Linked DNA regions of Homo sapiens. The protein of the gene in region 1 purifies or fractionates together with the protein of each later gene. This does not show direct contact. Each region holds a gene or a part of one and is shown in the gene's direction. Other genes may lie near its edges.

The links.
Region 2: the proteins of SLC25A14 (region 1) and UGGT1 purify together in Homo sapiens (affinity purification with mass spectrometry; one large-scale study listed by BioGRID and IntAct). This does not show direct contact.
Region 3: the proteins of SLC25A14 (region 1) and PRDX4 purify together in Homo sapiens (affinity purification with mass spectrometry; one large-scale study listed by BioGRID and IntAct). This does not show direct contact.
Region 4: the proteins of SLC25A14 (region 1) and PPIC purify together in Homo sapiens (affinity purification with mass spectrometry; one large-scale study listed by BioGRID and IntAct). This does not show direct contact.
Region 5: the proteins of SLC25A14 (region 1) and DNAJC3 purify together in Homo sapiens (affinity purification with mass spectrometry; one large-scale study listed by BioGRID and IntAct). This does not show direct contact.
Region 6: the proteins of SLC25A14 (region 1) and UGGT2 purify together in Homo sapiens (affinity purification with mass spectrometry; one large-scale study listed by BioGRID and IntAct). This does not show direct contact.
Region 7: the proteins of SLC25A14 (region 1) and TTC13 purify together in Homo sapiens (affinity purification with mass spectrometry; one large-scale study listed by BioGRID and IntAct). This does not show direct contact.

The regions. Positions count from the first base shown.
Region 1 is NC_000023.11:130,346,419-130,349,918, forward strand, and holds part of SLC25A14 (brain mitochondrial carrier protein 1 isoform 1 precursor), read left to right. Parts: intron 1-125; coding exon 126-273; intron 274-2,832; coding exon 2,833-2,927; intron 2,928-3,405; exon of another isoform or gene 3,406-3,449; intron 3,450-3,500. UniProt on the Homo sapiens protein: Transports inorganic anions (sulfate, sulfite, thiosulfate and phosphate) and, to a lesser extent, a variety of dicarboxylates (e.g. malonate, malate and citramalate) and, even more so, aspartate and glutamate and tricarboxylates.
Region 2 is NC_000002.12:128,181,700-128,185,199, forward strand, and holds part of UGGT1 (UDP-glucose:glycoprotein glucosyltransferase 1 precursor), read left to right. Parts: intron 1-430; coding exon 431-591; intron 592-1,975; coding exon 1,976-2,090; intron 2,091-3,500. UniProt on the Homo sapiens protein: Recognizes glycoproteins with minor folding defects. Reglucosylates single N-glycans near the misfolded part of the protein, thus providing quality control for protein folding in the endoplasmic reticulum.
Region 3 is NC_000023.11:23,673,993-23,677,492, forward strand, and holds part of PRDX4 (peroxiredoxin-4 precursor), read left to right. Parts: intron 1-997; coding exon 998-1,114; intron 1,115-3,500. UniProt on the Homo sapiens protein: Thiol-specific peroxidase that catalyzes the reduction of hydrogen peroxide and organic hydroperoxides to water and alcohols, respectively.
Region 4 is NC_000005.10:123,030,226-123,033,725, reverse strand, and holds part of PPIC (peptidyl-prolyl cis-trans isomerase C precursor), read left to right. Parts: intron 1-3,500. UniProt on the Homo sapiens protein: PPIase that catalyzes the cis-trans isomerization of proline imidic peptide bonds in oligopeptides and may therefore assist protein folding.
Region 5 is NC_000013.11:95,760,639-95,764,138, forward strand, and holds part of DNAJC3 (dnaJ homolog subfamily C member 3 precursor), read left to right. Parts: intron 1-40; coding exon 41-160; intron 161-3,004; coding exon 3,005-3,110; intron 3,111-3,194; coding exon 3,195-3,315; intron 3,316-3,500. UniProt on the Homo sapiens protein: Involved in the unfolded protein response (UPR) during endoplasmic reticulum (ER) stress.
Region 6 is NC_000013.11:96,043,402-96,046,901, reverse strand, and holds part of UGGT2 (UDP-glucose:glycoprotein glucosyltransferase 2 precursor), read left to right. Parts: intron 1-3,500. UniProt on the Homo sapiens protein: Recognizes glycoproteins with minor folding defects. Reglucosylates single N-glycans near the misfolded part of the protein, thus providing quality control for protein folding in the endoplasmic reticulum.
Region 7 is NC_000001.11:230,968,862-230,972,361, reverse strand, and holds part of TTC13 (tetratricopeptide repeat protein 13 isoform a precursor), read left to right. Parts: intron 1-3,500.

The DNA.
Region 1 (3,500 bases):
AGCTCTTCTATGTGTTATAAAAAGGACTTTGTCTTAGGATTCAAATATTGTCCTTGGCTTATATTTAGCAACAACTTAACTGTGATTCTTTGGACATACTTATAAATAAGTGTGTTCCTTTATAGGGACTTTCCCTGTGGACCTTACCAAAACACGACTTCAGGTTCAAGGCCAAAGCATTGATGCCCGTTTCAAAGAGATAAAATATAGAGGGATGTTCCATGCGCTGTTTCGCATCTGTAAAGAGGAAGGTGTATTGGCTCTCTATTCAGGGTGAGACTGGTTCTTTCCTTATATCATTAACAGAAATGCTTTTTAAAGAAGCCATAGTTTTCAGCTGTCTGATAGTTTGTGTCCGTTTCATATTCACCATTTCAACTTGTAATTCAGTATTGATATGCCAGTTTATATTTCTCCTGCTTGTAAGTCTTGAGCTTTGGATTTTGTGTTCATTTGGTTATAAGTGATAATAACATTTTAAAATGGATATGTCATTGCAGCATAGGCTTTCTGTGGATTTCCCGAGAGTCACTAATAGCCACTGTTAATAACAGCACCAATTAATTATATATATTTTTGTGATATCCCTCCTGAGTTGGCAAATTCTGACTTCCTTTAAAATTTTCCTCTTTGAAAAAATATTATTCTTGCAGTTTAAACAGAAAGTGCATAATGAGAGAGAGGGAGACCCATCTTTATCATCACCTTTTGATTAGCCATAATTTTGTGGTTTACTGTCTAGTTTGTAGTTTATCTGTTGCCAGTTTCCTAGGCCACTCCTGCATCTAGGCTACCAGTTTATTACTCAGAGAATAGACATCAATTTTATTGTTAAACTATGTTACATCGTTAAACTATGTTAGACTTAATTTAAAAGGTAATTTTCTTGGGGGAAAAATCAAGTAGTGTATCCTGAAGCATCCTGAAGATGATCCACCATCCTGATTTGTGGATCATCTGTTTCACCTTGTTCTTTCATCAGCATAGATCATCACAAGATATTTTCTGATAGCAAGCAATAAAGTCAGAAATATGCATATTTAGTCATCATTTAAAAATCCTAACCATTTGAGCTGCTGCTGTCTTTCTATTTATACCTCCTACAGTATAGTTCTGCAATTTGGAAGAATCCCAAAGGAGGTATGAATGAGAATGTCTCCAGTTTAAAGGAGAACTTAAATAGGGTGGAATTTTGGCTCTAGTACCTCCTTGTTGATGTGATTAAAGACGTATCTGCAACTGTTAGGAAGTAGAGGTTGATTTTTTTAAAAAAATCTTTATTAGGTGAGCAATGATGTATAATTCTTTTTATACATTGCTGGATTCAATTTACCAATATTTTCTTAAGGAGTTTTGCATCTAAGTTCATGAGAGACATTAGTCTGTGGTTTTCCTTTTTTGTACTGTTTTTGTCTGGTTTTGGTATCAGGGTAATACTAGCCAAAATTAGTTGGGAAGCATTCCCTCTTCTGTTTTCTGGAAGGAACTGTGTAAGCTTAGTGTTAATTTTTAAAATGTTTTGTAGAATTCCCCAGTGAAATTATCTGGGGCTATTTCTTTTTGGGGAACATTTAAATTCAGAGTGCAAATTCTTTAAGGTTATCATAGTTTGGGGTGCTATAACAAAATACCATAGACTGGGTGACTTATAAACAATCGGAATTTATTTCTCACAGTTCTGGAGGCAGGAAATCTGAGATCGGTGCCAGTTTGGTCAGGTTCTGCTGAGGTCTCTTTTCTGGGTTGCAGACTGCCAAGACTTCTTATTGTATCCTCACATGGCAGACAGAGTGAGGGAGCTCTCTGGGATCCCTTTTATAAGGGCACTAATCCTGTTCATGAGGGCTTTACCCTCATGACCTAATCACCTCCTATTACCATCATATTGCGGGTTAGGATTTTAAGATCTTGATTTGGGGACGATACAAACATTCAGTCCATTGCAATGGGTATGAGTTTTATTCAGATTATTTGTTTTATCTAGTTGAGTTTTGGTAGCTTCTGGTTTTCAAGGAATTTGTCCATTTCTTCTAAGGTGTTGAATTTATGAGTATAAAGTTGTTTATACCATACTCTTATTGTCCTTTTAATGGCTGCAGGAATTGTAGTGCTAGTCCCTGTTTCATTTCTTATTTGCATCTTCTGTCTTTTTATCTTTGTGAGTCTTGCTAGAGGTTTATCAATTTTGTTGATTTTTTTTTAAAGAGCTAACTTTTTGTTTCATTGATTTTTCTCTATTTTCCTATTTTCAATTTCATTGATTTGTGCTTTTTATTATTTTCTTTTGCTTGCTTTGGGTTATTTTGCTTTTCTTTTTCTAGTTTCTTGAGGTAGGAGCATAGATTATTGATTTGAGACTCTACCCCCCCCCCCCCTTTTTTTTTTTTAAAATGCAAGCATTTCATGCTGTAAATTTCCCTCAGCACTGCTTTGGCTGCATCTCATACATTTTAATAGGTTGAATTTTGTTGTCATTTAGACCTGTGAATTAAAAAAAAATTCCTTTGACAGACACTTGGTCTGACCAATAGATTATTTAGATATATATTGTTTAATTTCTAAATGTTTGAGGATTTTTCTTATTGATTTCTGGTTTGATTCCATTATTGTCAGATAACATATTGTATATGATTTCAGTTCTTTTAAATTTGTTGAGGTTGGTTTTATGACCCAGAATGTTCAGTTTCTTGCTGAGTGTTTCATGAGTGCTTGAAAAAAATCATATTCTGCTGTTGTTGGGTAGAATGAGATGGGTAGTCCAAATAAGTAGGCTATCTAGATATGTATAATCTGAAAATGTTGAGAATAACTTTTTACTTTTTTTTTTTTCAGAATTGCTCCTGCGTTGCTAAGACAAGCATCATATGGCACCATTAAAATTGGGATTTACCAAAGCTTGAAGCGCTTATTCGTAGAACGTTTAGAAGGTCAGTATACTTACCCTCTTTTGAGGTGATACTCAAAGGGATTGTTGAAATCATGCTTAGTGAGAAATGTTGGTCATGAGGTGCCTGAGAATGGAGGAGAGTCACTGCAAAGACAAAGTGAGCTTGTTCTAACTTGGAATAAATCTTTGCAGAGGTGATATATGAATTAGAGAGACCTGTTCTTCAAATTTGTCCCTTTTCCTATCAACAAAAAAGGCATGTGATCATCCCAAAAGAAACATGGAACAATCTTGTCCAGAAAATTAATGCTATCTTCATCAATAAGAGGACTTCAACTGTAAGGCATTTTCTAGCTGGCAATTTTGATAAGCTTTTATTAGGCAGAATAATTTTAGGCTGTTTTCTAAATTCTGATGTACCTTTGGCTACCTTATGCATATTCAGCATTATCATATGTCTGTTTGCTGCTGTAGCATTTTCCATCATGATACTACACTAAATGGTTATTTTACCACAGGCCTGGGGCTGTTGGATGTTTGGGGACAGCTGGAAAGCCTTTCGGTTAGTAATGTCCTTTGAATCACTTTATTGTCCTAAAGTCAACTTTTTCTG
Region 2 (3,500 bases), on another chromosome or scaffold:
AAGTGTGCCTTCCTGATTGTAACATAGCCACATTTAATCCTTGTTGAGTACTTACGATGGGCAAGGCATTATTCTACATCTGTCCATCCATATGTTAACTTACATAATCCTCCCAGCAACCCTGTGAGATAGGTACTGTCATTATCATTATCTCCATTTTACAGATGAAGAAACTGAGGCACAGAAAGGCTAAGCAGTTGAAATTTGTTTTATTCCTACTCCCACACACCTTGCTAAGAAGTGTCTTACATGTTAGTGAGTCAACCAGGTAATAAGTGGAGCAATCAAAGTGCATCTGCCCCTAGTGCCTGTGCCACTAACCACGGAGCAGCCTTCCATGCTGCCTTAAGCGAGCCACTCTGTATCTGAAGGAAACCGCATTAGAGCTGTCTGCATGGTTGCTTAACAAATGACTTTTTATATTCTCCAGATTGTACGAACAGATCTGAAAGAGTTAAGAGATTTCAATTTGGATGGTGCTCCTTATGGTTACACTCCTTTCTGTGACAGCCGAAGAGAAATGGACGGCTACAGGTTCTGGAAGTCAGGGTACTGGGCCAGTCATTTAGCCGGGCGAAAGTATCATATCAGGTACTGAAAAGAAGCACTCCTAACACTGTTACGGGGTTTTCCTTAAAATTGATTTTGTGTGGTTAAAATTGTGAATAGGTAATACATTGGTATGGTTGAAAAATAAAAATGATAAAAAATACACAGTGGCTGGGTGCAGTGGCTCATGCCTTAATCCCAGCACTTTGGGATGCCAAGGCAGGTGGATCACCTGAGGTCAGGATTTCAAGACCAGCCTGGCCAACATGGCGAAACCCCGTCTCTACTAAAAATACAAAAATTAGCTGGGCATGGTGGTGGGCGCCTGTAATCCCAGCTACTCGGGAGGCTAAGGCAGGAGAATTGCTTGAACCCAGGAGGCGGAGGTTGCAGTGAGCTGAGATCACGCCGCTGCACTCCAGCCTGGATGACAGAGTGAGATTCCATCTCAAAAAAAAAAAAAAATACAGTGTAAAAAAAACTTCCTAATCCTGTCTCTCTCTTTCCTACTCAGTTCCTGTTCTCACAGCAGATAACCTCCCAACTTATTGACTGTCTATCCTTCCAGATTTTCTTAATTCTTACAGAAACAGCTGTGAATGTGTATTCTTTTTTTTTTTACACAAAATATGCTACCTATTTATACATTTTGTAACTTGGCTTTTTTTTTTTTTTTTTTACTTAATGTCATATACATCTTCTCAGTGAATAGAGAGAGACCTGATTCCTTTTCATAGCTGCATATTATTCCAGTGTGTGAGTGTTATTTATAGTTTTCCCTGTGACCTACAATGTTGCAATGAATAATCTACTAAATAATTTTTCATATCTCATATATTTGTGAGATAAATTCCTAGACGTAGACCTTTTAGGTCGAACAGTGTGTGTGTTGTTACATTTCTAATGAGCACCCCATTCTCTTCTCTGCGAGAAGTGTGATTTGAAGATGTGCAGGGAAGAGGAACGTGTAGGAAGCGGCACATGCAGAGATCACTGCTGGGGTTTAGTGATGGTGGCTTCATTCTTTACATTCCTGGTCCAAAAGAACTGTAAGGACTGTAACACTCTGGGGTTTTCCCCCCCCTGTAACATTGAAGACATCATCAGGATATCATTGAATAATGGTTGTTTATCAGTTACTATGGCTTTTGTTACTGCCGCATATGCTAGAAATCTTTGGTCTGAGATTATTTCTTTCGGATGGCAAATACAGAACAGTAACAAAAGCATAGCACAGTATAGATTTTGCAGTGACTTTCTTAGAGATCTTTAAAGTAGCACACTTTAACTCCACTGTAGGGCTGTAGCATACCTTTTCAAAGAAAAGCCAGAATATTTGGCTAGTGGCCTGTTCCATTATTCATTGGGTTTAGTTTTCCTGTCGTAATCCATGGTTGGTTGTAACAAGCGGGTCTTCTTTATTCAGTGCACTATATGTTGTGGATCTGAAGAAGTTTAGGAAAATAGCTGCTGGTGACAGACTCAGGGGACAGTACCAAGGTCTGAGTCAGGACCCTAACAGCCTTTCAAATCTTGATCAAGTAAGTGTCCATTTTTTATGGTTAACTGTGAGTGACGGGTATACAGTGTTGCATCAGAAAATGAAGTATTACTTGTGTCTTCAGTCCTCTCCTCACAGGATGGCGTCTTGTTTTTTCATGGTGTGTGTGTGTGTGTGTGTGTGTGTGTGAGAGAGAGAGAGAGAGAGAGAGATTTTTATCTGCCCTCAAGACATATCAGCGTGAAAAATGTCATAGATTTGATGCTGGCTGGGGAGAGAGATGGAAGGAGAATGCTGCCTCTCTGAACCATTAGCATATCTTTGTATTTTGTACTCAAACTAATCTCATAGGTTTGTTTCTCTACCTACTAGGGTCAGTTTGTTTTTCTGCTGTAGGAACTAAATAGCTCAGGATTCGTAGTATAGAATCACAGTATAGTATCACAGCTTCCCCTTTTTCTATGTCAGAAACCATGATGTGTTTCAAGGCTAGCTAAATTACTGTTTGTTAATGTTAAGCATTTTTCAGAGGTGAGATTGTAGTTTAAGGGTTTTGGATACATATTTCACATATTTTAAGCATTTTATTTTGCTTAAGTCTACTTAAATGTTTTTAAACCTTTATTGTGATATGTAGCATCCATAAAGAAAAGTATACAAAAAACATACATACATATTCACATACATCCAGGAATTATTATGAAGCAAATACCCAGATACCACAACCTAGTTCAAGAACTAGAACATTATCAGCATCCCAGAAGCCATCCTTCCTCCCTAACAAAAGTGTCTAGCATCACGACTTTTATGGTAATCATTTTTGTTTCTTTATAGATTTACTGTTTAAGCATGTATCCATAAACACTAGTTTAATTTGCTCATTTTCTTCTCCTCTATCTCAATGGAATAATAAAAGGTAAACTTTTTTGTTTGTTTGTTTGTTTTGAGACAGAATCTCACTCTGTTTCCCAGGCTGGAGTGCAGTGGCATGCTCTGGGTTGCACTCACTGCAACCTCCACCTCCCGGGTTCAAGTGATCCTCCTGCCTCAGCCTCCTGAGTAACTAGGATTACAGGCACGCACCACCACTCCTGGCTAATTTTTGTATTTTCAGTAGAGACAGGGTTTCACCATGTTGGCCAGGCTGGTCTCAAACTCCTGACCTCAAGTGATCCACCCGCTTTGGCCTCCCAAAGTGCCGGGATTACAATCACGAGCCACAGTGCCCGGCTCTACTTACTTTAAAATTTGTGTGATACCTGGTATCTTCTAATTTATGGAGCTACTATGGATCTGATTCTGTTGTATTATTTCTGTTATTCTTTTGTTCATACTGTCTATCACATATTTGTTTATCTTCTGTAGTGTGTCAGGCGTTGTTTTTGCAGAATTATTTTGGGGAATAATTTGAGTTCAAAAATGGTATCACCCAACAGTATTTGTTTCTCTC
Region 3 (3,500 bases), about 110 Mb from region 1:
GTAGGAAATACATTTTTCGTTGTCAGCCAGTACACAGGCACATATATATACGGTAACATTCCATCTGGATGCACCAGCACAGCCATGCTCCTTAAAATACTGAAAAACCCTCATATCATGTGGTAAATAGCCACTTCCCTTTCCTCACCAACTAGTTAGTCCTCCTGCCTGATCCCTTTCAGAAACCTCCAGAACTAAAGCCAGCTTTGAGTTAAGATTGTTAAATATTTTGAATATCATCACTGTTGAAGACAAACATATATATTTGTATATATAAATATGTGTTTCATAATTTACCCTTAGTATGTATGATAGAGTCTCCTGTTTTCTATTCGATTTCACTTTTTAAAAATATTTTTTAGAACTCAGTTAATTTAAGGAGTCCCTACCACGGTTTGAAAAAATGCCACCCTAGTAATATTCTGTAAACATGGCCTGACAACATGAGGGTATTAAGGTATAAAATCCCTGGCTGCACAGGACTGGTAGACAAGGTGGAAGAGGACCTTATCAAGAAAGGAGGGGTGGGGGTACTGGAAAACATTGCCTCCTCTCCAAAATACACATAGATGCATCTAATTCATAGGGTTGGTATAGGAATATTAAAAAAAAAATAGTGAAATGACATAAAATTTGTATAGATCCTTTGAAAGCTATAAAATACTATATAAATAAAAGGTATTATTAAATAAAAGTAATAAAATGAGGGGTGGCTATTGCTATAAGGGAGAAGGGAACATTGGTTGACTACTGATCTATTAAGTTGTAATAAGAAAGTTTATTGAGATGTAGTTGGGAACTCTGTAATATGTTTCTGTCTTAAATATTTGATTAAATGACAGTCTTTTAGACTACTCCATTTTGAAAAGGTTCAAATATAAAATTGTTCTTAATGTGCATTTTTATTATTAAAGGTATTTGTAAAAATTGTCATTTGAAAGTTTAGGTATATGCTTATTTGGAGAATACTGAATATTTTTTTTTTTTTACCTTTCAGCACATTTGTGTGTCCAACTGAAATTATCGCTTTTGGCGACAGACTTGAAGAATTCAGATCTATAAATACTGAAGTGGTAGCATGCTCTGTTGATTCACAGTTTACCCATTTGGCCTGGTCAGTATCTTACACTTATATTCGTAGAAAAAAAAGAATGGATTTACTCTTAAAGCATGGACAGATAACTCTTGATATGATATAAGAATATAGTCATTTATCAGACAATTCAGGAATAGCTTTATCTAAGAGTAATACATGTAACTACACATTTTCCAGGTTAAAAAAAGAGAGAAGAGTAATATAATCAGCTGCTATAATAAAAATGCTTAAGGATTTTATAGGACATTTCAAAATAAGGGGAAAAGTTAAATGCAATAGATGTGATTTCTATAGCGAAAACCACTGAATTATATGCTTATGATAAATTGGGTTACCATAATCTGGAGGAAAAAAATCTTTAAAATATGCCATTTCTCTGTTACACAGTTATATAGTCAAACTCAGCTTTTACAATTTTGAAGAAACAATACTTTTTAAAAATGAATTTTAAAAAATGTTTAAAAATTCATTAATCATAAAAAGATGTTTTACCTAAATTCGTTATAAAGAATTGCAAATTAAAATGACGAGATGCCAATTTTCCCTGTCTGGTTGGCCAAGATTTAAAAGATTGAAAAAATGTATCCACTGTGGACAAAAATTGAAGAAACGGCACTCACACACAGCTGTTTAGCATTTCTGGAGAGCAGTTGGGCAACATGTCTCAAAATTGGAAATTTACATGTTAATATGAGTTTTTATAGTGTCCACAGTCTTGTGCAGAAAACTTTGTGCACAATAAAGACCATTCAGAATTGGGCTGGGCACAGTGGCTCATGCCTCTAATCCCAGCACTTTGGGAGGCCGAGGCAGGCAGATCACCTGAGGTCGGGAGTTCGAGACCAGCCTGACCAACATGGAGAAACCCCGTCTCTACTAAAAATACAAAATTAGCCAGGCGTGGTAGCAGGTGCCTGTAATCCCAGCAACTCAGGAGGCTGAGGCAGGAGAATCACTTGAACCCAGGAGGTGGAGGTTGCAGTGAGCCGAGGTCACGCCATTGCACTCCAGCCTGGGCAACTGGGCAATGAGAGTGAAACTCCATCTCAAAAAAAAAAAAAAAAAAAAAAAAAAAAAAAGATTCAGAACTATTGGTTTTAAAACATAATATTCAATTTATTAAAGTTACAAATTTGAAACACAAGCTTTTCTCATTTATAATCTGTGTGTGTATAACAAATTTTCATTGCTTGGTGAGCTACAATTTAATTAATTACATTTCCCTAAGAAATTAATTCCCATAAGTATTTTTAAATGCAGTTATATATTTAATATATTTGAATTCCTTAAGTATCTCAATTTTCAGACAAACCTTCCCAAATACTTAAGTAGTTCTAATATGCCAAATTCTCTTAAACATTATAAATAACTTAACATATAAATATGTACTGATTATTTCTTAATGTAAAAATATTAAAATAGCCTGGCATGGTGGCTCACGCCTATAATCCCAGCACTTTGGGAGGTCAAAGCAGGAGAATCATTTCAACCCAGGAGTTCAAGACCAGCCTGGGCAACATAGTGAGACCCCATCTATACAAAAAATAAAAAAAATTAGCCAGGTCTGGTGGTGCATGCCTGTGGTCCCAGCTACTCGGGAGCCTGAGATGGAAGGATGACCTGAGCCTAGGTGGTCGAGGCTGTAGTGAGCCAAGATCATACCACTGCACTTCAGCCTGGGCAATAGAGTGAGATCCTGTCTCAAAAAAAAAAAAAAAATTAAAATATAGGCTTAATTTGCTTCATCATTTCCTTTAAAAAAAGAAAGACAGGGTCTTACTATGTTGCCCAGGCTGGAGTGCAGTGGCACAATCAATCATAGCTCCCTGCAGCCTTGAACTCCTGGGCTCCAACAATCCTTCTACCTCCCCAAATAGTTGGGACTGCAAGCTTGCACCACCATACCTATTTTAATTTTTATTTTTGTAGAGATGGAGTCTTGCCATGTTGCCCGGGCTGTGCTTCATCACTTCTGTAGTAATTATAAATCTTCCGAGGATTAAAATGCATATCCACTAAGGAAAAAGTTATGGCATCCCAAATAATTTGGGATTGCTTTCCCAAGGAAATTTGGGGATACATTCTCAGCCTGATAGGGTTCACATCAACCAGAAATTTCTACTTGGGTGTCAGAACTGGGGCTCCAGATATCTAGAGCAATGTCGTTTTGTTTTCTATCTGCTGTGTCAGTACCCTCCTGTTAGAGCATCAGCCCATGTCTCCTGGTTTCAAGTTACAGAATACAGATTGAGCGTCCCTAACCTGAAATCCACAGTGTTCCAAAATTCAAAATTTGAGTGCTGACATGATGCTCAAAGGAAATGCTTAGTGAAGCATTTCAGAGTTCAGATTAGGGATGTTCAACCAGTAAGTATGCAGATATACCAAAATCGGAAAAAATCCT
Region 4 (3,500 bases), on another chromosome or scaffold:
CTCCTTTGTCAAATGGAGATAGAAATCATCCCTACCTGGGAGGGCTTTGCACATTAGATGTGGTAAAGCAGATGTCTTAGTCCATTTATGTTGCTATAAAAGAATACTTGAGGCTGGGCAATTTATGAAGAAAAAAGGTTTATTTAGCTCACGGCTCTGCTATGAGCTGTAAGATTCAAGACTGGGCATCTGGTGACAGCCTCAGGCTGCTTCCAGTCACGGCGGCGGAAGGTGATAGGGAGCAGGCAGGTGCAGATCACGTGGAGAGAGAGGAAGCTGAAGGGGGTGGTGCCAGCTTCCTTTTAAAACCAGTTCTCATGGGAACTAACAAAGTGAGAACCCATTCACTACTGAGATGGCACCAAGCCATTCATGAGGGATCTACACCCATGACTCAAACACCTCGCATTAGGCCCCACCTCCAACATTAGGATCAAATATCCAAACCATAGCAGCAGGTAAAGCACATAGTCCATAGTCCCTGATTTCAGAAGTCACTTGTTAGTGTTATTTGTGTTTATCTTCTTAATCCTACTGTGACAGAGCAGACCTGAAAGGAATCATCATTTATTTTACAGATGAAGAAAGGGAGTTCAGAGTTTAATTAACTTGCTGAAGTTTCCATGGCCATTGAGTGGTGGAGCTGCATTTGAGAACAGTTTCTTCCACATCGCAGCTCATGTACTGGGTGTGTTCCCTAGTTACTTTGGAAATGGAATCAGGATTAATTCCACAGGGGTTTGGGTCAGGCTGTGTAAGTGCCTCCTCCCTCTTCCTCTACCTCCTCCCATCTCCAATGCCGAGTAATTTTCAAATGACTTTCAAGGGCAGCCTTGAGGGAAAAAACAAGTGACTGAGGTGCTCACCCCAAAGTCTAGCATGGAATCCAATATCACCTTTCCCAGGAAGCCCACACTTATCTCCACAGATAATCACCACCCCTTACCATGACACCTTATCTGTACTTGTCTTATAAAATCTGACTTCTCATTATATTATAGCATTCATATATGTGTTTTCTGTTGGACTGAAGCTCCTTGAGGGTAGGAGCTTTGTAGCCCCACCCCACCCCTGGCCCAGCACTGGGTTTTGTTCCCAGAGGCACTCAGCAACATCAGAGATGAATCCAGTGGTGAGAGGGTTTAGAGTGAGAGTGTTTGCTGGCAGCTGTCTCACCTCCTGTCTAGGAATGTGTGTGCCCAGGTCCTCCTTGAGTATCATTTGACATTGAATCTTTTAACATTTCTTGACTGCCTCCTCCTGCTGACCTTTAGCTGGCCACTGGGGAACTAAAAACACTGTTTCTACTCCTTAGGGTTTCCCTGGCTCGACCCGGAGAGCCCTATTAACAATAAACCAGTTTAGCTAGAGGCAGCCTTGAAATTCTGGCTCTCACACTCATAGTAGGGAAACCTTGGTAAATCACTTAACCTCCCTAATTCCCACTTTTCTCATTTGTAAATTAGTGATAATAGTTCCTGTCCCACCTTTCCCAGTGTGGTGAGGATGAATTATATAAGATGATGTGGGTTACCCACACTGAGACCACCACTAAGTCATGTTTGCTTCCTTCCCTCTTTCTTCCTGCTCCTCCTCCAGTGTCTGCCCCTTTGTTTAAACGCCTCTCCTGGCTGGGCGCTGTGGCTCATGCCTGTAATCCCAGCACTTTGGGAGGCCAAGATGGGCGGATCACTTACGGTCAGGAGTTCGAGACCAGCCTGGCCAATATGGCGAAACCCCGTCTCTAGTAAAAATACAAAAATTAGCCAGGTGTGGTGGTACACACCTGTAATCCCAGCTACTCTGGAGGCTGAGGCACAAGAGTCACTTGAACCTGGGAGGCAGGGGTTGCAGTGAGCCAAGATTGTGCCACTGCACTCCAGCCTAGACGACAGAATGAGATTCTGTCTCAGTAAATAAGTAAATAAATAAATGCCTTTTCTGTCTCCCTCGTACATTTCCTTCTGCCACCACCCCAGTGCAGGCCATTATGACCTTATTCTTCAACTGGTATAAGAGCCCCAGATTCTCTTTCTCTCCGTTTGAGTAACATTCCCAGAGCCTCGCTTGACCTTATTCTTTGTCTTCTCTCTTTTGCCTAACAAAACTCATGCTTACGTCAGCATCTCTCCTCTGCCTTCTGGAACTGGTGGGCAGCTTCTTTCCTGGCCCCCCACCCACTCTAACCCCTAGTTGTGGTCAGAAGGGCAGCTTTGCTTCTCTGCACACAGGTCACATTTCCTGCCTAGGTGCATTGGTTCCAGAAAGAAGTCTGCCAGGCAAGGCTCACCCCCATCCTTGTTTGGGGAGATGGCTCCCCTCCTCCCAGGCCTGCCTCCCTTCAAGCCTTCCTCCTTAGCCTCACCGTTCCTGCAGGCCTGGGCATACAGTGTTTGGGGGGCATTTGTCACACACTGCCCTGTACTGTGGTTATGGGTTTGCCTATCCTATCTCTTTATTTTAAACTGCCTTAGGACAGGGACTCTCTTATACAGTTTGTGCCCTCACATTGCCTTTTACATAACCTTGCATAAATACTTATTGACAAAATGAGATTGGATTTTATCCTTTCCAGTAGAGTTGGCAAAACCTGCTGTGTGTTCTTATGCTCACTCATGAAGCTGAAGGATATTTCAATTTGGGGAAAAAAATTATAATAATATGTGTGCTAGGCTGTGTGTAAAAATATGTGATTTTTGCTGAAGAGTTATGTTGGGTGACAGGTACTTTTTCTTCATCTGCTCATGCTGCTCTCCCAGATCTTATTCCCTTCCTAAACATTCACAGGCTTTGTTTTCTCTTCTTTATTTTAAAAGTCTGGAAGGCTCTTCTAGTGTCTCGTATGATGTTTCTTTAAGGTTTCATCTCTGGCTTCCGGGTGCTGCTTCGTTATTGCTGGTTATTGAATTTACACCTTGGCTTGCAAATCCCTTTGGAGAAACTGCTTCTCTTGTAAGCCGGCTCTGCACTGACCAGGCCCATGGGTGTGTTGAAGCACCTTCCTATCCCAAGCCATGCTGAATTGCACTCCTTTAATACACTGCCCCTTCTCATGCATTCTATAAAGCTCTTCTATATAAGTAATAATAAAAGTTTTGCTGCTTTGGCCATGTAAAAATTGTAAAATGCCACATGGAACACTAAATATCACATCACCCTGTGACAGATGTACTGATGTATTGGCAGAAGCTCTTGACTTGAACTGAAGCTTGACAGTCTTTACTTACTGATTTTTCTAAACTGTAAGACATCTTTTTTCTTTGACAACCGTTCTTATATTTTTTAAAGCCATCTCTTGAATGTCTTTTTTACCCATTCAAACAGTAAATTGGTTCATATAATCTAAACGCGCTAATAGAATGCCCTTTGACTCTGTGGCCTTTTCAAGCGTTCTATTTCAGAATCATCTTAACACAGTGATTTGTGAAGCAAAATGCATATAATTTTGTTTCAGATGAGACAGTTAAAAACAAGTCCAAGAGAACTTTTATGGTTTTACC
Region 5 (3,500 bases), on another chromosome or scaffold:
TTTGACATGGAGTATTTTCCTTTTTTAAATACATGAACAGTGAAGTTCGGGAATGTCTTAAACTTGACCAGGATCATAAAAGGTGTTTTGCACACTATAAACAAGTAAAGAAACTTAATAAGCTGATTGAGTCAGCTGAAGAGCTCATCAGAGATGGCAGGTGAGAATATGGTTGTTCCAACTGTCCAGCCATTCCTTATGTGCGGGGCTGTGGGCACAAGTGAACTACAGAACTGCTCTTTTACTTCTCAGCCATTGAGGGTGGGGTATTCTAGATAGCCCTGGGCCTTAGCAAAACTACCAGAATTGGACATTTTTGGAATAGGGAAGAATATAAATAATAGTAACTGTGTAGTATCCTTACCAGCAGAATTACTTGTACTATACCAAATATTTATTATCTCCTATATCAGGCTGAGCTATGTACTGAGGGTGCAGACTTAAACTTGACAATAGTTTTTGTTCTTAAGAAGTTTATAGCATTGCGTGGGAGACAAATATATGAATTGATTATTAAAAGACAATATGATACCAAAGTGATAGAATGTACATAGGATAATTGGAGTACCAAAGAGGAGTATTTACTCCAAACCAGGATGGTAAAGGCAAGGAGTAAAAGAGGAGCTTTTTTTTTTAGAGAAGGTGATAGATATTTAAATCCTAATCCTAAAGAATAAGTAAAAGTGGACAGAAGTAAGAGGCTGTGTCTGTGTGAGTGTTGTTTGTAGGGGGTTTATAGGCTGGGCAGGAGGACTGAAAAGAGTAGAGGGCACTGCAGACAAAACTGCCTAATAGAAAATAGGCTCCAATTCCTCTACTTTTAGTAGCTTTGTAAGTTGCCATCATGAGAATGCTTCACTCGGTTTCCCCCAACATCTTGCAGACTATAACGCCTTGCAAAACTATAGTACATTGTCACAATCAGGATATTGACGTGGGTGCAGTCAAGATACAGAATAATTCCATCCCAACAAGGACACCTCATGTTGCCCTTATAGCCACACCTACTTCCCTCTTGTTCCTATCCCTTCCTTAGCTTGTGGCAACCACTAATCTATTCACTTGTAGAATTCTGTCATTTTAAGAATGTTACATAAATAGAATCATACAATGTATAAACTTTTGGGATTGGCTTTTTTTTTTTTTGAGACAATCTCACTATGTTGCCCACCTGTTCACAGATACAGTCATAGTACACTCAAGTGATCCTTCTGCCTCAGCCTTCTGAGTAGCTGGGACTTCAGATGCATGCTACCACAGCTGGCAGGATGGGCTTTTTTCCCCCTCATTCGAATTGTCTGGAGATTTATCCATATTGTATCAATAATTCCTCCTTGTTTACTGTTGAGTAGTTTCCATGGTATGGATTTACTGCAGTTTGTTTAACCATTTATCCATTGAAGGACCTGAGGTTGGGAGTTTGAGACCAGCCTGACCAACACGGAGAAACCCTGTCTCTACTAAAAATACAAAATTAGCCGGGCGTGGTGGCGCATGCCTGTAATCCCAGCTACTGCGGAGGCTGAGGTGGGAGAATCGCTTGAACCCGGGAAGTTGAGGTTGCGGTGAGCCGAGATTGTGCCATTACACTCCAGCCTGGGCAACAAGAGCGAAACTCCGTCTCTAAAAAAAATGTTTTCTGTTTGCAAGTCTGTCCTTTTCAGGTCCTCTGGCTAGACAGAGCAGACTTCTGCAGGTTTTTGTTATTGTCGTTCTGTACCTGTTGGCGTTTCTGCATTGCTGGAATCTTCAGCTCCAAGTCTGGGATATATGAAACAAAAAAAAAGAACCCAGGGAACGTCTTACCATGTTTTCCTCAGGTCCTGAGTCACTAGCTAGTCTGTCTCTTTTCCTCCTTTGAAAGTTTTCTATTTTAAAAAATATACATATAATCTCTAGGGTTTTTTAGTTGTGCTTAGCTGGAGCACTTGGGACAAATACATCTATTCCACTTTCCCAGAAGCTGGCTTTTTTGTTTTCTTCTTTAAGTTCCAGGATGTATGTGCAGAATGTGGAGGTTTGTTACATAGGTAAACGTGTGCCATGGTGGTTTGCTGCACCTATCAACCCATTACTTAGGTATTAAGCCCCACATGCATTAGCTATTTGTCCTGATGCTCTCCCTCCCCTTGCTGCCTGCCCCACACAGGCCTCCGTGTGTGATGTTCCCCTCCCTGTGTCCATGTGTTCTCATTGTTCAGCTCCCACTTATGAGTGAGAATATGCAGTGCTTTGTTTTCTGTTCCTGCGTTAGTTTGCTGAGGATGATAGAGAAGCTGGCTTTTATTTTAAATGTTTTAGTTAAGCCTGTGTTTTAATACATTGGCATATTTACATATGAAGATTGTAGCACTTTGGGAATAGTGTGCCACCATGGCATAGAAACATATTTTTTACTTTACTATTGTTGAGGGAAATAACTGAGTATATAACAGGATTAGTACTTTTTACTGGTTTAAAGAAAATGCTGAAATAGCTTTTATTCTTAGAAAGCTTATACAGTTGGGAATTTAATCAGGTACCTTTTGTGTGAACTACGTTGTACTTTGTTGTAAATACTGACATTAATTATATAAAATGGCACGTAATGGGTTCCATTATTTTCATGGAAGTGTTTACTGACCAAGAAATAAAACTTGATCTCTGTATTGTTCAAGGTGCTCAGTGTAAGTCAGACTTCAACAGGGTGTTTTACTCAGGTTTGGAATTCTGAGCAATGTTTCTGTAAGGAAATTCTTCTGGTTTGATTGGTACTTATACTCACAGGTATGCTTTGTTCTGTCCATCTGCATCTCCTATGGTCATATGTTTTTATTTCCTAACTCTTAATTATGGAGTGTACCTTCTATGGGACTCTAGATTAATAAGGGAAAAGCCGAATCTGAAGCCATGGGCTCATCCAATTGGATTGATTAAGCAACACATGGTGAAGAGGGGAGGAGCCTTTCTACAGCTCTGGAAATCAAATGTCATCATTTCTTATCATGATTTGCTCATTTCTTAGATACACAGATGCTACCAGCAAATATGAATCTGTCATGAAAACAGAGCCAAGCATTGCTGAATATACAGTTCGTTCAAAGGAGAGGATTTGCCACTGCTTTTCTAAGGTAACAGTTGACTTGTTCCCAGAAATGTGAAAACTCAACATGTGGAATACCAACCATAAATCCTTGTCTCACATTTCCTTTTAGGACGAGAAGCCTGTTGAAGCTATTAGGGTTTGTTCTGAAGTTTTACAGATGGAACCTGACAATGTGAATGCCCTGAAAGATCGAGCAGAGGCCTATTTGATAGAGGAAATGTATGATGAAGGTAAATCTTTAAGGATTTGATTTGCAGTACCGAAGTGTTGATTAGGAAATTATCACATTTTAAGCTTCCTTTTCCTTAAAACAAATTTACCAGAGTACCTGGAAATGTTGACAATTTTAGAAAAATGGCAGAGAACTTGAAAATTACTCTTCCATAGTGGAACCTGAAAGGTATACCATGTGAGG
Region 6 (3,500 bases), on another chromosome or scaffold:
CTTGCGGTTGGATCTCAGACTGCTGTGCTAGCAATGAGGGAGGCTCCGTGGACATGGGACTCTTCAAGCCATGCGCAGGATATAATCTCCTGGTGTGCCGTTTGCTAAGACCGTTGGAAAAGCGCAGTATTAGGGTAGGAGTGACCCGATTTTCCAGGTGCCATCTGTCACGGCTTCCCTTGGCTAGGAAAGGGAATTCCCCGACCTCTTGCACTTTCCGGGTGAGGCGATGCCTTGCCCCGCTTCGGCTCACACTCTGTGGGCTGCACCCACTGCCCTGTACCCACTGTCTGACAAGCCCCAATGAGATGAACCTGGTACCTCAGTTGGAAATGCGGAAATCACCTTTCTTCTGCATCGCTCATGCTAGGAGCTGTAGACTGGAGCTGTTCCTATTCAGCCATCTTGGAACCTCTCTCCTATTTATCTTTGTTTTTATTGCATTTGCTTTGGGGTTCTTGGTCATGAAATCCTTGCCTAAGCCAATGTCTAAAAGGGTTTTTCTGAGGTTATCTTCTAGAATTTTTATAGTTTCAGGTCTTAGATTTAAGTCCTTGATCCATCTTGAATTGATTTTTGTATAACGCGAGAGATAAGAATCCAGTTTCATTCTCCTACATGTGGCTTGCCAAGTATCCCAGCACCATTTTTTTGAATAGAGTGTCCTTTCCCCACTTTGTTTTTGTTTGCTTTCTCGAAGGTCAGTTGGCTGGAAGTATTTGGGTTTATTTCTGGATTCTCTATTACGTTCCATTGGTCTATGTGCCTGTTTTTACACCAGTACCATGCTGTTTTGGAGACTATGGTTTTATAGTATAGTTTAAAATCAGGTAATGTGATTCCTCCAGATTTATTCTTTTTGCTTAATCTTGCTTTGGCTGTGTGGGCTCTTTTTTGGTTCCATATGAATTTTAGGATTTTTTTTCTAGTTTTGTGAAGAATGATGGTGGTATTTTGATGGGAATTGCATTGAATTTGTAGATTGCTTTTGGCAGTATGGTCATTTTCACAGTATTGATTCTACCCATCCATGAGCGTGGGGTATGGTTCCATTTGTTTGTGTCGTCTATGATTTCTTTCAGCAGTGTTTTGTAGTTTTCCTTGTAGAGATCTTTCACCTCATTTGTTAGGTGTATTCCTAAGCATTTTATTTTTGTTGGAGCTGTTGTAAAAGGGGTTGAGTTCTTGATTAGATTCTCAGTTTGGTCGCTGTTGGTATATAAGAGAGCAACTGATTTGTGTACATTAATTTTGTATCTGGAAACTTTGCTGAATTCTTTTATCAGTTCTTGGAGCTTTTTGGAGGAGTCTTTGGGGTTTTCTAGGTATATAATCGTATCATCAGTTAACAGCGACAGTTTGACTTCCTCTTTACTGATTTGGATGCCCTTTATTTCTTTCTCTTGTCTGATTGTTCTGACTAGGACTTCCATTACTATGTTGAATAGAAGTGGTGAGAGTGGGCATGGTTGCCTTGTTCCAGTTCTCAGAGGGAATGCTTTAAACTTTTCCCCATTCAGTATTATGTTGGCTGTGGGTTTGTCATAGATGGCTTTTATTACATTGAGGTATGTCCCTTGTATGCCGATTTTGTTGAGAGTTTTAATCATAAAGGGGTGCTTGATTTTGTCAAATGCTTTTTCTGCGTCTATTGAGATGATCATGTAATATTTATTTTTAATTCTGTTTATCTGGTGTATCACATTTATTGACTTGCCTATATTAAACCATCCCTGTTATGAAACCCACTTCATAATGGTGGATTATCTTTTTGATACATTGTTGGATTCGGTTAGCTAGTATATTGTTAAGGATTTTTACATCTGTGTTCATCAGGGATATTGGTATGTAGTTTCCTTTTTTGGTTATGTTTTTTTCCTGGTTTTGGTATTCGGATGATACTGGCTTCATAGAATGATTTCAGGAGGATTCCCTCTTTCTGTCTCGTGGAATAGTGTCAATAGGATTCGTACGAATTCTTTGAATGTCTGGTAGAATTTGGCTGTGAATATGTCTGGTCCTGGACGTTTTTATGTTGACAATTTTTTATTACAATTTTAATCTCGCTGCTTACTATTGTTCTGTTCAGGGTATCTAATTCTTCCTGATTTAAGCTAGGAGGGTTGTATCTTTCCAGGAATTTATCCATCTCCTCTAGGTTTTCTACTTTATGCATATAAAGTTGTTCATGGTAGCCTTGAATGATCTTTTGTATTTCTGTGGTGTCAGTTGTAATAGCTCCCATTTCATTTCTAATTGAGCTTATTTGGATTTTCTCTTTTTTCTTCTTGTTTAATCTTGCTAATGGTCTATTTATGTTATCTTTTCAAAGAACTAGCTTTTTGTTTCATTTATCTTTTGTATTTTTTGTTTGTTTCAATTTCATTTAGTTCTGCTCTAATCTTGGTTATTTCACTTCTACTGGGATTGGGTTTGGTTTGTTCTGTTTCTTTAGTTCCTTGAGGTTAGACCTTAGATTGTCTGTGCACCTTCAGACTTTCTGATGTAGGCATTTAGGGCTATGAACTTTCCTCTTAGCAGAGCCTTTGCTGTATCCCAGAGGTTTTGATAGGTTGTGTCACTGTTGTTGTTCGGTTCAAAAACATTTTAAATTTCCATCTTGATTTCATTGTTGACTTATTCAGGAGAAGGTTATTTAATTTCCATGTATTTGCATGGTTTTGAAGGTTCCTTTTAGGGTTGATTTTCAGTTTTATTCCACTGTGGTCTGAGAGAGTGTTTGATATAATGTCAGTTTTCTTAAATTTATTGAGGTTTGATTTGTGGCCTATCAGTGGTCTACCTTGGAAAAAGTTTCATGCACTGATGATGAATAGAATGTATATTCTGTGGTTGTTGGGTAGAATGTTCTGTAAATATCTGTTAAGTCCATTTTTTCCAGGGTATAGTTTCAATCCATTGTTTCTTTGTTGACTTTCTGTCTTGATGACCTGTCTAGTGCTATCAGTGCAGTATTGAAGTCTCCAACTATTATTTTGTTACTGTGTATCTCATTTCTTAAGTCTAGTAGTAATTGTTTTATAAATTTGGGAACTCCATTATTGCATATATATTTCAGATTGTAATATTTCCGTGTTGGACAAGGCCTTTTATCATTATATAATGTCCCTCTTTGTCTTTTTTTAACTGTTGTTGCTTTAACATTTGTTTTATCTCATATAAGAATAGCTACTCTTGCTCGCTTTTGGTGTCCATTTGCATGGAATATCTTTTTCTACCCCTTTACCTTAAGTTTATGTGAGTCCTTAGGTGATAGGTAAGTCTCTTGAAGACAGCAGATGGTTGGTGAATTCTTATCCATTCTGCAGTTCTGTATCTTTTAAGTGGAGCATTTAGGCCCTTTACATTCAATGTTAGTATTGAGATGTGAGGTACCATTCTATTCATTGTGCTATTTGTTGCCTGTATACCTTGTTTTTTTAATTGTATTTTTGTTTTATAGGTCCTGCGAGATTTATGTTTTAAAGAGGTTCTGTTTT
Region 7 (3,500 bases), on another chromosome or scaffold:
GGAGAGTGCATATGTCCTAAGTGTAGATAGCTCAATACGTTTTCATAAGCTGAACAACTGATGTAATCAGAAAGAACCGAAATCAATAGCTGTCTGTTTTTAAGATTGCCGATAGTCTCATTCCATGCTAACCCTAGTTTCATTTGGGAAATGTTTTGTCTGATTTAGAGTCCAGCACCATGCAGTGGACTTACACTGCACATGTGCTGGCATTCTTTCCATAGACTCTCACTTAGGAATCAGTTGGTGCATCTCAGGACCACCTCTGCACAAGAAGACCAGTTGTCTTCTCTTGCAACTCTTCCCTGCTGGTGTTTGCAATGTTCTCAGTGACTCTGTGTTCCCTTGTCACTAATCTTTTCATGTCAGTGCCTAGCTCTGTTTCAGCATTCCCTGTGGAGTTGATGTTGTCTGCCAGTATGTGTGGGCTTATGAGAAAGCTTTTAGCTCTTAAAAGTATGTGTCACTTTGAGCATCTGATGCATCTTCAATCTAGTTTATAACCTTATGCTAAGTAACTGGCCTTTGTGGGGAAGGCCTGTTTTGTTGGTTAAGGCATCCTTCTTCTGTTCTGTTCCATGTAATTTGCTACTGTGCCTGTTTTTCCATCCCGTGCAGTGAATTCCTTTTCTTTTGATTCTTTACATATGTTTATATTTGTATGTGGGTTAAGATACCTTTGATCCTATTACATTCAAGCTTTGTTAAAAAACAAAAAACTTCTGTCTCTTTAAGATGGCTTTTGTGGATCCTTAGTTCCTATGGATTAATTATATGTTTACTTTATAATTTAATAATCAGCAGGCAGTGTCTATTTTCAATTTGCTTTACGATAATACATCTCAGGTACCGATGAATATTTCATTTCATTAAATGAAGCATATAAATTCTTCAGAGCATTTTTCCTGTTATTACACTCTCAAAGGAATTTACCACTTGGGACCATATTTCGGGGCCATTGAGCAATGCAGTATATGATGTCAACTGTGGTTGTCTTTTTTTTTTTTTTTTTTTTTGAGATGGAGTCTTGCTCTGTTGCCCAGGCTGGAGTGCAGTGGTGCAATCTCGGCTCACTGCAAGCTCTGCCTCCTGGGTCCATGCCATTCTCCTGCCTCAGCCTCCCGAGTAGCTGGGACTACAGGCGCCCGCCACCACGCCCGGCTAATTTTTTTGTATTTTTAATAGAGACAGGGTTCCACCATGTTAGCCAGGATGGTCTCGATCTCCTGACCTCGTGATCCGCCTGCCTCGGCCTCCCAAAGTGCTGGCATTATAGGCATGAGCCACCGCGCCTGGCCACCTGTGGTTGTCTTATAAGTGCAGAAATTGATAAAAGCAAAAGGCACTACAAGTTGATACCACACAGCCACCTGGCCTTCAGGTAGTTCTTTCAGCCACAAGAATTCTGTCTTCTCTTCGCAGGTTTACCCTATACCTGGGGTTAGGATTGTCAATAAATATCTGGCACTCTACTTTTAAGTTGTAGCTCATCCAAGGGAAAAGCCCAGTCATCCTTATTTTCAAGTAGCTCAGTGTGCTGTCTGTTATAACTAGGTGGTCGAGTGATAAGTGCTACCCAGCAGCTGTTGATTTCCTTATAAATTGGCCATGGGTTTGCCACTTATAAGCTTTCAGTCAGTTTTCTCACACACATGGATGTGTGAGAAATACATGCTACTGCCAATGCCACCTTCTCTCCTTCCTTGGAGGTGACGACTGTCATCTTATTTGACTAAGAAGCAGTGAGAAAACAACTTCCTTGCTCCCCACCACCCCAGCTACTGGCCTGCCCGCAGATGGACTGGTAGATTTTGCCTTCTGTCCTGTTGTGGTGGATGAGTGGCCGGTGCCTCTGCCTAGTTCAGCTCTCTGTTCACTGGCTCTCATTTCCTCTTGTCTTCCGTCAGCATACAGATGGTCTTAATAAAACTACCATCCTGAAAATACAAGCAACTAAGATGACCACACACCCCTCCAGCCACTGCCCCATCCCTCTGCCTCCTTTTACAGCAGAATTCCTCAAAGGAGATGTTCATATGGACTGCCTCCACCACTCCACTCTCTCTTGGACCTTCTATGGTTAGCTTTTGTCCTCGTCAATGTGCTGAAACTGCTCTTCTTAAGGTCAGTTGTGTGTGAGGTTTAGGAGGAGAGGAAAGAAGTTTCAAGACACTGCTATACCTAAACTGTTCATTACTAGGACCCAGCATTGGCAGAAGGAGTTGTGACAAATGTACCATGTTCTTCATTGCTGTGGCAAGACCCGGCTGTGCTATGTCTTTGTTTTGTGACCTTAAACATGTTCATTAACATTGAGTTTATTTCCCCATGTGTACAGTGGGCACAGTGTGCCTTGTATCTACCTTGGAGGATGGAGAATCAAAAGAAATGAGGTTTATGAAGGTATTTGGAAGCTGGGAAGTACTGTGAAGGCCAAGATAAGCTTAAAGAAAGCAGATAGAAAAATTTAACAAAAAAACACTGCGATTTTAGCCTATAAGCCTATACTAACATTTAACAATCCTTTTCTGTGCACAGGGCTTTATACCCTTTATTCTTCACAGTAGCCCTGTGAAGGTATCTGGGGGTGGTTATTTCTATTTTGCAGATGAAGGAGCTGAGGCTAAGACGTACTAAAGGACTTGCTCTAAGTCAAACAGTCAGGGAAGCATCTAATCTGGGTTAGTCTGACTCCATAGCCCTGCCCTGAGCCACTGTTACATTGCCTTCAAACTAATTAATTAAGTTTGAAGTCAGAGAAATACTAGAATTAAATATAAGACCTAGTTCTTTGAAAATACTGCTTAAGATTAGACAGTTATCTAGCAAGCCTAATCAAGAAAAATGAGCAGAAACAAGTATTTGGCTTGAGGAATAAGCAAGTATAATAAATATGAAAATCATTATAATAACTGTATCCAGCTTTATGGCCCAGATGTAGAACCTTTCAAAGAAATGGATAGTTCTTTTAACAAAAGATAAATTGCTAAGTTGATTCTCCCACTATCTCTTAAATACTCATCTTCACCAGGTCAACTCTTCTCTTATTAAACGTAAGCTTCTTAAGCTTTCTTTTTCTTTTCTTTTCTTTTCTTTTTTTGAGATGGAGTGTCGCTTTGTCACCCAGGCTGGAGTGCAGTGGCGCAATCTCGGCTCACTGCAAGCTTCGCCTCCCAGGTTCACGCCATTCTCCTGCCTCAGCCTCTCGGATAGCTGGGACTACAGGCGCCTGCCACTGCACCCGGCTAGGTTTTTGTATTTTTAGTAGAGACGGGGTTTCACCGTGGTCTCGATCTCCTGACCTCGTGATCCGCCCACCTCAGCCTCCCAAAGTGCTGGGATTACAGGCGTGAGCCACCGCACCCAGCCCCCTAAGCTTTCTTAGAGACTGTACTTACAGTCTCAGCTTATCATCCACCATAAGTTAATGATTATCAAATCATCACATCCATATCTGTAGTATTTACCTTTCTCTGGACTTTCTTAACTACATGCTAGAG